2 separate regions of the Homo sapiens genome follow, and region 1 is linked to region 2. Evidence: fine-mapped expression QTL. A gene starts in region 2. The other region holds a variant in brackets. All regions are shown on one strand. Distances are from middle to middle. Region 1 overlaps KCNK13 (potassium two pore domain channel subfamily K member 13). Region 2 holds the start of KCNK13 (potassium two pore domain channel subfamily K member 13).

Region 1 (5,371 bases), 40 kb after region 2:
GGGGGAGGGTCCCAAAGCCACATCCTTTCTCATACCAAACCAACATAATTTTTTCTTCCAGGGGAGGTAAAAAGCAGGGCAGACTGTCCCAAATTTGTGCTTATTTGGTTTTGACATACACACAAAACTCACATCTCCTTCCCTGATGGAGACTAAGAACCCAACTAACCACGCAGCTCTGGACTCTTCTGAAGCTGCTGTTCTGTTTGCACATTACCTAAGGCTCAGCTTGCTCCTGCCCTTCCCATCGCAAGCCAATATTAAATTAATTTGTATGTTCTGTGTTAGGAAGTACCGAGGGGCCAGAATAAAGTTTTTTGGAGTCGATCCCACTTTGGAGTTAATAGCATAGATAATCTACACTTGGATAATTAGGGTTTGGCCAGAGTAAAAAATAACTCAATGAAACTAAAAATATCTTCATTTAAGAACCTTGATGTAAACACGTGAGTCCATGTTTCCACCCAAGAAACTCTATAATAGGTGCCGTGGCTGCATTTTGGTGACCTATTTATCACTGGCCAAGTCTCAAACCTCAGCAATGCTGGCCCTAATGACATCTAAACTGGAAGCTGATTCTGCATGAAATTACGTTCAACAAGCTACTTTTTGGCTGGTACTGGTGACCTCGGGGATATAAGGCCTACTTCTGTTTGCTGGAGAGAACATTGCCTACCTAATAGAAGAGGAAGGCCTAATCAGTCCCAAGGATGTTAGGGAGGCCGCAAAGTGTGAAGCAGTGGATTGAACAAAGGAAAGCAGTAATTTCATCAGATTAGTAGTGGCTATTTTTATAACTTTGATTTGTCCATGTGAAACAGAGGAATGACTTCGAAAAATAGTCTGAAGACCTGCAACTTTTAAAATTGCATTTGCATCTCAGCACTAGGTTGGTTGGTTTTTCTTGGGACGGGGCCTTGCTTTGTCGCGCAGGCTGGAGTGCAGCGGTATGATCACATCTTACTGCAGCCTCCAACTCTTGGGCTCAGGTGATCCTCCCACCTCAGCCTCTCCAGCAGCTGGGACCACAGGTGTGTGCCCACCATGCCTGGCCAATTGTTTTATTTATTTGTAGAGACAGAGTTTCACTATGTTGCCCAGGCTGGTCTTGAACTCTAGGGCTCAAGCAATCCTCCCACCTCAGCCTCCCAAAGTGCTGGAGTTACAGGTGTGAGCCACCGTGCCTGGCCAGCACGAGATATTTGAGTCAAGCAGATGCTTCCACGTGCTTTGCAACTAAGGAGGTTGCAGTATATGATGGAATTATGTCATTCGAGGTACTTCAATCCCCTGTTCAGTTTCTCAGTCTGTAACATGGGCTGATAATAATCACACCTCAGAGTTGTTCTGAGGAGTAGACCAGGTGACGTAGGCAGGGTGTTTGGAACCATGTCTGCTTCACAGTGAGCACAAAATACTCACTGTTGCCCTTGTTGTTCAGTCTCTCTCTGAAATCGCTTCTGGCACCAAATGGGCAGGAGATTTGATTTCTCTGAAATCTTGATCTGAAGTCCCAGCACGTCTCCACTCATATCTTGTCCCGGACCAGAGTGTTGTCCTCGTATGGCAAAACCAATACTTAGACGAGGGGGCAGGGGCATCACATTCAGAAATTCTCCCATGGGGTGCAACGCAGGAGAGGGATACAAGACTACAAATTGGGTTCAGGGTATGCTGCTCTGGTGATGGGTGCACCAAAATCTCACCAGTTGGCCGGGTGTGGTGGTATAATCCCAGCACTTTGGTAGGCCCAGGCAGATGGATTGCCTGAGCTCAGGAGTTTGAAACCACCCTGCGCAACATGGTGAAACCCCATCTCTACTAAAATACAAAAAAATTAGCTAGGTGTGGTGGCGTGCTCCTGTAATCCCAGCTACTCGGGAGGCTGAGGCAGGAGAACTGCTTGAACCCAGGAGGTGGAGGTTGCAATGAGCTAAGATCGTACCACTGCACTCCAGCCTGGGCAACAGAGTGAGACTCCGTCTCCAAAAAAAAAAAAAAAAAAAAAACCTCACAAGTCACCGCTAAAGAACTTCCTCATGTAACCAAATACCACCTGTTCCCCCGAAAACCTATGGAAATATTTTCTTTTTTTTTTAAA[C/T]GGAGTTTTGCTCTCGTTGCCCAGGTTGGAGTGCAATGGCGCGAACTTGGCTCACTGCAACCTCTGCCTCCCAGGTTCAAGCGATTCTCCTGCCTCAGCCTCCCAAGTAGCTGGGATTACAGGCATGTGCTACCACACCCGGCTAATTTTATATTTTTAGTAGAGATGGGATTTCTCCATGTTGGCCAGGCTGGTCTCGAGCTCCCGACCTCAGGTGATCCACCTACCTTGGCCTCCCAAAGTGCTGGGATTATGGGCATGAGCCAACGTGCCCAGCCAGAAATAAAAAATTTTTAAAAAGAAATCCCCCCATTGAAATGGACTCCTTCAGATCTATACGGGCTCCAGGAATTCCCTTTAAGGCAGAATGTACAGCTGTGATGTAGAGCTGGTAACAACACCAGCCAGCATACAGAAAGCTCACTGGCTGCAGATTCAGTTCATAACTCTCCCATCAACTATAGTATCTTCATTAATTGATGTAAAATTGAAGCTTAGAAGAATCAAGTAAGAATCTTGCCTGTGCTGCAATGCTGGGTGGCAAAGGCAGGATTTGATCCCAGATGATTGGACTCTAGCACCCATCATCTCAATCCCTACCCTATGCAGCCACCTTCAGGATGTTGTCTTCTCTCCTGTTGCCTTCCTGGTTATTGGGAGTCAATGACACGGAGAGTAGAGTCTCTCCCATGACCCCCTATGAAATTCCTCCCATTATTCCTCATAGCCTTTGGGAAGTGCTTTTCCGCAGAGCTTCTCAGTCAGTATGGCTGTGCTGTCTCAGATGTTAACACTGACTTTCTGTCTCCCTGTGGGTTGCTGTCTTCCAGTTGAGTTGCCAAGCTTTCATCTGAGATATTAGACATTAGATTTGGGGGAATTTTAGTTCTGTTAACATTCTGGGATTTTTTTCCTCCAACTTTTATTTTAGATACAGGAGGTACATGTGCAGGTTTGTTACATGGGTGTATTGTACTCAGGTAATAAGCATTATACCCAGTAGGTAGTTTTTCAACCCATGCCTCCCTCCATCCCTGCTCTAGTAGTCTGCAGTATCTGTTATTCCCATGTTTATGTCTGTGGACGCTCAATGTTTAGCTCCCACTTATAAGTGAGAACATGCAGTATTTGGCTTTCTGTTCCTGTGTTATACACTTAGGATTATGACTGCCAGCTCCATCCACATTGCTGCAAAGGACATAATTTTGTCCTTTTTTAAGGCTGCATAATATTCCATGTTGTATATGTATAATACCACATTGTCTTAATCCAATCCACTGTTGATGGGCACCTAGGTTGATTCTATGTCTTTGTTATTGTGACTAGCAAGGTGAGGAACATACCAGTGCATTTATCTCTTTTGAAAAATGATCTGTTTTCCTTTGATATATACCTAGGAATAGGATTTCTGGATCAAACGGTAACTCTAAGTTCTTTGAGAAATCTCCAAACTGCTTTCCACAGTGGCCAAAATTACTTACATTCCCACCAATAGTGTACAAGTGTTCCCGTTTCTCTGCAGCCTCGCCAGCATCTGTGGGATTTTAAGGGCAATCTGAGTTATTTTATCTAGGACCTTTTCCCATGAAAAATAATGCAGGTATTTTTGGAGATTCAAACACACATAAAACTAGGGCATCCTGTCCACCCCAGGGAGACAGACAGGTTTTCTTTTCTTGGGGGACGGAGTTTCGCTCTTGTCAGCTGTAATGCAATGGCGTGATCTTAGCTCACTGCAACCTCCACCTCCCGAGTTCAAGCGATTCTCCTGCCTCAGCCTCCCGAGTAGCTGGGATTATAGGCTCCCACTACCTTCCCCGGCTAATTTTTGTATTTTTAGTAGAGACGGGGTTTCACCATGTTAACCAGGCTGGTCTCAAACCCGGGACCTTAGGTGATCTGCCTGCCTTGGCCTCCCAAAGTGCTGGGATTACAGGCGTGAGTCACTGCACCAGGCCCAGACAGTTTTTTGTTGTTGTTGTTTCTCTCTCTCTCCTGGACCAGAGAGATCTCTAAGTGTATCTCCTACCTCTAAAGACTTTGCCCTTTCAGCTTCCATTCTCAGCAGCTCAGTGAGACATGGGCCATACCCAGATGTATAAGATCAGTCTCTAGGCTTCCTGAAGACCCTGTCTTTCCTCTTCACATTCCTGTTGGGCAGGAGTCAACTTCTCTTGTCTCTTTTTCTCTCCTGATCTTACCCTTTTCTGAAAACTCACTCATCTCGCTCCTCTACTCAATTTTCCTTTGACATGAATTTTTCTCTTCTCAGCCGAGCCTCCTAATCTTGTTCTTCCTCAAGGACACCTTGGAATAAAAGCCTGGCATGTCCCTGAGTGCCTCCTCCTCCTGTGAATGCCTTTTGGCCCCTCCCTGCATTCTTGTTGGGTGTCAGGAACTGCGTGGTTTCTGGGCCTTCTCTCCAGACCCCTTTTCCCCTCCTAAAACAGTAACATCTTTGAAATCTATGATCATATAGGCCATTCTTTGATGAGTTTCTGGAAACCTCACTGAGAACACATTGTCTGGAGACCATTTTCTCTCTTGGCACAGCAGCACCCAGAAGGCAATAAGACACCTTGTCCCTGTCACACATACATTCCTATCTTTGGGGACTCTTGGGATTTGCTTGATAATAGTATCTTTTTTATGTCTTTGAAGGCTTTGTGTGATCACTTGATGAATCCTGCCAGAATTGTCTCACAAAGGTGATGTGCATTCTGTTTCTTTCCTGGGCCACATATCCTCCTGGGATGGTCAGATTAAGCCCAAGGGAGACGCCATCCTACCCAGGTTGGGCAAGGAAGGTGGAAGAGTCTCGGGGGTCCCTTTCCATATGAGGTGTCACTGTCTTGAACTTGGGGATCAGCTACTTTCTTTTCTTTTCTTTTTTTTTTTTTTTTTTGAGAGAGTCTCACACTGTCACCCAGGCTGGAGTGCAGTGGCACGATCTTGGCTCACTGCAACCTCTACCTCCCAGGTTCAAGCAATCCTCCTGCCTCAGCATCCCGAGTAGCTGGGATTACAGGCATGCACCACCATGCCTGGCTAATTTTTTGTTTTTCAGTAGAGATGGGGTTTCACCATGTTGGCCAGGCTGGTCTCAAACTCCTGACCTCCAGTGATCTTCACGCCTCAACCTCCCAAAGTGCTAGGATTACAGGCATGAGCCACCAGCCAGGATCAGCTACTTTCCAACTCCATTTTGCTACGTTAGGTAAATGGGTTACATAAATAGGGTGAGGTTGGGTCCATCCATCCATCCAAGGC
Region 2 (5,342 bases):
TTGTCAGAACTCACCTAATGATACACTTAAGATTTGTGCATTTCATTGTATGTAAATTTTATCCGAAAAGGAAAAAAATTCTGCAAGTAAATATTGAACCCTACGTAGTGATATGCAGGCAGAAGTACTGGGGATGAGGGCGGAAGTGTACCAAGCTCTGCAACTTACTCTGAAATGCATCCAAACAAGATGGGTTGATGGATGGACAGAGGGACGGGTAGATATCTAATAAATCAAGTATAGTAACATGTTAATTGTAGAATCTAGGTGGTGGGTATACGGGTGTTCACTGTAAAATTCAACTTTTTAGAATGTTTGAAATTTTTCATAATAAAATGGATTTAAAAGGTAATTGCAGTACTCACCCTGGGTGTATACACATGCACCCATTCTCGCGATGCCCCTAAAGCTCTTGCCCCTCAGAAGGCTAGATGAAAGAGGGGCATTGGGGAGTGAGTAACAGAGCCGAGAGGACTGCTAACAGCACCAGGGTTTCTGATGAAAATGCACTCGCCAGAGCTGTGTTTCTTTATTCGAAATCACACGGTTTTACTCAACAGGGCTCCTAGCCCTTCTGTCTCTGCTCCTGGTGCGTAAGGGCGGTGTGTGGGGCTCTGCGCCTGAAACCGCTCTCTCGGAAGGTGGGAAGATGCCCACGTATCCATTCCTCTCCGCGTACAGATTCGCTCCCACACGCCCGGGCGGGTGATTCCGGAGGGCCGCGCGGGGCTGTGTGCGCGGGCGGGGGCGGGATGTGTCTGGAGGGGGCAGAGCGCCCTCTCCCGGCCCCGGAGGGCCCACGCGGACCGGCTGAGCGTCCCACCAGCCGGTTCTGCATCCACTACCCAGATCTGCGCGCCCTGGTGGGAGCACCGCAGCCCCGGGTCGGCCCTTCGAACGCCGAGCGTCTACCCGCGGAGACCAGCGCAGGAGGCGGGCCCGCGCGCAAGGAGGCGGGCGACAGGGTGGAGTCGCCGCAGCTGGCAGCCGCACGGCTCTACCTGTTGCAGCGTCGGAGCGCGCCCGCCTGAGAAGGCAGAGCGCGGTGCGGACCTGTGCTCCGCGCGCCGGCTGGCAGGGCAGGGCCGCGGCTGCCAGGAGGCCCGGGAACAGTCCCGACGGAGCGGCGCGGAGAGGGCGCTCCCCGGAAGGTGAGATCTGAGCGCGGCAGCGGCGCCAGCGCCCGCTACAAGGCGGGGTCTCGGGGAGGGGGCCCCGGCGGTTTGCTGGAGAGCCTTGCTACTGTTCTGCATGAGGTGGGGGATGCCTTCTGCGCGGACCCCGCGTCCAGGCAAAACTCTGGAACGCACTAGGCAGCCAAGCCCGGGGGGAAGAGATGGAACGCTCCAAGGTCAAGGTCTCCTGGCCGCGGAGCCCTTCCAGCCCCCAGTGTTTGGCCTCCTCTCCGGAAGCGGGGCTGGCTCGCGGTGCGCGCTTGGTCCGGGCGGAGCCTACTAGTAGGCGCAGAGGACGCCCCCGCGCAGGATCCAGAGACCAAGGGCGCTCTGGCATGGTCAAGGCGAGGGAGGCTGCCCGGGGGAGAAGCCCCTAACTTCCTTTGCTCCCTGTTCCAACCTCCCTTTCTGGTCTCCTCTCTCCAGCCCGTCCGCCCAACGGATGCGCAGCGTTGGGGCCCGGCCGGAGGTCGGAGCCCTCGGACGCCGCAGCCCTCGGACGCCGCTCAGCACAGCCCCTCTCTCCGTGCGCCCGCCCTGGACCCCCTCCATCCCTAAGCCCCGGCAGCCGATTCGGAGACTCGGGAGGCCACAGGCTCAGCGCGACACCACGACCACAACTAGGAGGCACCATCGTCGATCTACCTGGGGAGGCACCTACAAAGCCAGCAGACTGACACCCGTGTCCTAGCCGTCGGCGGCCTGCGAAGCGATAGTCAAAGGAACCAGGACCCAGGACCCCGGCGCTCTGCTTACCCGCAGACCTCCGGACCGCGCCCCCCCCCCGCCGCCCCGCCCCGCCCCGCCCCGCCCCGCGACCGTCTCTTTGCGGGAAACTCGAGTTGGCTCGAGCTTGCCCTGAAGACGCGCCACGCCCCCTCCCCTATCTGAGCCGGACAGGGAGCCGGGGTGGAAACTGCGCCCGCATCCCAGCGCCAAGCAGACGTGAACTCTGCGCCCGTTCCCCGGGACCTTCAGCGTTAAGGAGAACTCCGAGGAGAGCAGGGGGAGTGGAGGGGAACGGCGGCGACAAAGCGGATTTGAAACTAGGAGTCAAGGAGGACGTGGGGAGCTGGCGCCACAGGAGCTACCGAGGCGGCGGCCGGGGGAGCCTCGCGGCCTGCGGGAGAGCCCGGCGGTCATGGGCGAGCCGGCGGTGGGGCGCCCGGGAGCTGGCTGAGCGCCGGGGCCCTTATTTCCCGGGGGTGTGGGCGAGACTCCGCCGACGCCCGGTGCCGTGGGCCTGGGGGCTGCCCCCGGGGGCCCGGCCATGGCTGGCCGGGGTTTCAGCTGGGGCCCGGGCCACCTGAACGAGGACAACGCGCGCTTTCTGCTGCTGGCCGCGCTCATCGTGCTCTACCTGCTGGGCGGCGCCGCCGTCTTCTCCGCGCTGGAGCTGGCGCACGAGCGCCAGGCCAAGCAGCGCTGGGAGGAGCGCCTGGCCAACTTCAGCCGCGGCCACAACCTGAGCCGCGACGAGCTGCGCGGCTTCCTCCGCCACTACGAGGAGGCCACTCGGGCCGGCATCCGCGTGGACAACGTCCGCCCGCGCTGGGACTTCACCGGCGCCTTCTACTTCGTGGGCACCGTCGTTTCCACCATAGGTAAGTGTGCTGGCCGGACTCGCTGACAACCTCCGGGCGGCCTCCACTTCCTCCGGGGGGCAGGACCGACCCTCTCATCCTTTCATTCATCCATCTGGGCGCCCAGCCAGACTCCACTGACATGAGCTGTCGCCTGATCAACAGGTGGTATTGCCTCCCCGCTGCTCTAATGTGGTCCAGGCACCGGCAGCTTCAGCGTCACCTGGCAGCTTGTTAGAAATGCAGTCTCAGTCCCCTCTGCAGACCTGCCGAGTCAGAATCTGCATGTTAACAAAGTCCCCAAAGGATTGGAATGATCCTTAAATTGGAGACGCTCTGCTCTGGGAGATTTTCAGTCTAATGAAGGAGACACGGCTTGAGTTCATGGGGAAGAAGGCTTTTACAGATAGGGACAGGAAACTAAACATTTACTGAGTCAGTCAGAGGGGAAGTGCAGATTTTAAAAGATTCTGCCCTCGACTTCACACTTACCGAGAAAAAATCAGAACAGCAGACTGAAAGTGAGGAAGCAAAAGTGCCAATGACGGTTCAAAAGATGGAAAATTTTCCACCAGGAAGAACCAGGGAAGTGACCTTTGGGCTGAATCAATTCGTGTTAGGCATAACTTGGGTTTGGGAACTGAAAGCGCGGTTGCACTCTAGAGTAGGAGAGAATCGCACTCAGGGGCCCCATGAGCTGGTTGGAGTGGTGGAAGGAAGACTAGGAAGGTCTGCTGGCTAATGGGATGGAGGCGGGGGTAGGACCTTCACTGACAGACTGAGGAGCTGGAATTTACCTAGAGGCACCTGGGAGCCATTGAGAATTTTTTAGCAAAGATGTAGCACAGCTACAATCAGCTGTGTTTATTTCCCAGCAGAAGGAAAATGATTTGGGGGAGTCTGCGCCACACCCCTAAAGATTGTTCATCCTTGAAGAATAATCAAGTGATTAATGGGGGTTAGGGAAGATGCTGTAGAAATAAATTCTGAGGGGGGCAAAAAGAGACCTGGAGCAGGGGAGGGAGGTTGGAAGAGTTAGACGGAGAGGAAGTGGCCTCCAAGCTGCAAAAAAGGCTGGCAGTTGCAAACAGCCCAGGGTGCATGTGCTGAGCGCTCTGTAGCTACTGCCCCTGTGCACTCTAGAAGAGCTCGCTGGTGAGGTGGGGCGACAAGTTGAGCCTCCTTGAGGCTCCCACACATGGCTGTGCTACATAGACATTCTGCCAGGAGAAGCAGCACAAAAGACAAAAGAGATTGGCTTCAGGTCAGATTCATCATGAAAGACTTCCCAGGGCTAGTCCAGGAATCCAGGGCTTCAGCTGATGCACAGGAGGCGAGGCAGAGGACCAGTATGATTAGGGACACACCGGCTGTATCTGAAGTGCCTGGCTCCCAGCCCCCATCCCATCCCAGATGGTGCGGCCCATCAGCAGGCCATGATGGCACCACCATAACTGGGTATCAGGCAGGAAACCTTGCAGCAGACCAGAATGGGCCCAAGATTGGTGAAGGAGGAATAACACCCCCATGGTTCTCCCCCTGAGCCCACACTATCTGCTGGACTCTTAGCCGTGTTCCACAAGCCCCTCCTCACATCACCTCCCACGTCCCAGAAGACAGTTCCAGAATCTCCACATAGGCAAGACTTGGGATGAACAAACTGATTAGGAGGTGTCACTTTGGAAGTGACCTTGACTCTACTGTGTTTGCATAGCAAGTACAGGATTTTTTTAGATTGAATGGTAACTTAGGGTGGTTTTGATGGGAGATTTGATGGCTGAATCTTTCCCACCACCATGAAAAACCATCTCTTGGTGCTCCCAGTGGGCACAGAGGCAGGAAGGAGCAGAGTGTGTGTGTGGACAGGTGCATCCATGTAGCAGGAACTGAGAGTGGCATGGGTAGGTGGCCATATAGGAACATGGGCTTTGGGGATACGAATATGACAATGTGGCATGGAGGAGTGGAAAGAAACCTGGACAAAGAGTCTGGAGTGGGAGCTTTTCATCCTGCCTCTGTATCTTGGGCAAGCCTCTTAACTATTCCGAGCCCCATCCTTTTCTCATCTGAGGCATCTACAGAGTGCCCACCTTGGTATCTGGCACATCAGCTATTTGGTGAATATTAGTCCTGCCCCCTGCTCCCTCCGTCTGCGTAAGCCTGCCCCTGTCACAGGGTTCTTGTGAGGGACAATGAGCTCTTGTAAGTGCGTGCGTGTTAAAAGGTAAAAAACATGATGTCAGTGTGGGCTGATTTTTATTTCTCATTTGTAACATTTCCTTTTAAATTGTTTCACTAATTGTTGTAATAACAGCACTGGCTAACCTTTATCAGGCCCGTATTAGGCACATACTGTATGATTATTATGTGAATGTGCAATGCAGCTCATTGCTGTGTGACATTCACACTTCATTTCAGCCAACACAACTCCATGAGGTAGGCATAACACTCCCCCGTTATAGATGAAAAAGCTGAAGGTTCAGGTTTTTTGTAAAATAAAGTATAAAGAAGAAAAAAATCAAGTTATATGCAGTAATATCATCCAAATTAACCACTGTTCATGTTTTGGTCCATTTTCTTCTGG

Evidence for each region. PIP is the estimated chance that this variant, and not a neighbour inherited with it, causes the effect.
Region 1: its variant is the best candidate, but not a certain one, in a credible set for the expression of KCNK13 in whole blood (INTERVAL, PIP 0.79).

What each region holds. Positions count from the first base shown.
Region 1 is chr14:90,099,804-90,105,174 of GRCh38, forward strand. All of the region lies in intron 1 of KCNK13 (potassium two pore domain channel subfamily K member 13), which reads left to right. Among named protein-coding and RNA genes, the nearest start is that of KCNK13, 40 kb to the left of the region's middle. The variant C/T (reference allele first, on the strand shown) is at 2,102.
Region 2 is chr14:90,059,761-90,065,102 of GRCh38, forward strand. It overlaps KCNK13 (potassium two pore domain channel subfamily K member 13), which reads left to right and starts at 2,234. Exons shown (of 2, transcript NM_022054.4): 1 at 2,234-2,779. The coding sequence starts at 2,446. LOC124903406 reads left to right here. Exons shown (of 3, transcript XM_047432048.1): 2 at 642-1,151; 3 at 1,602-1,973. The coding sequence ends at 1,866. RefSeq lists a silencer at 537-926 and enhancers at 1,175-1,676, 1,677-2,176.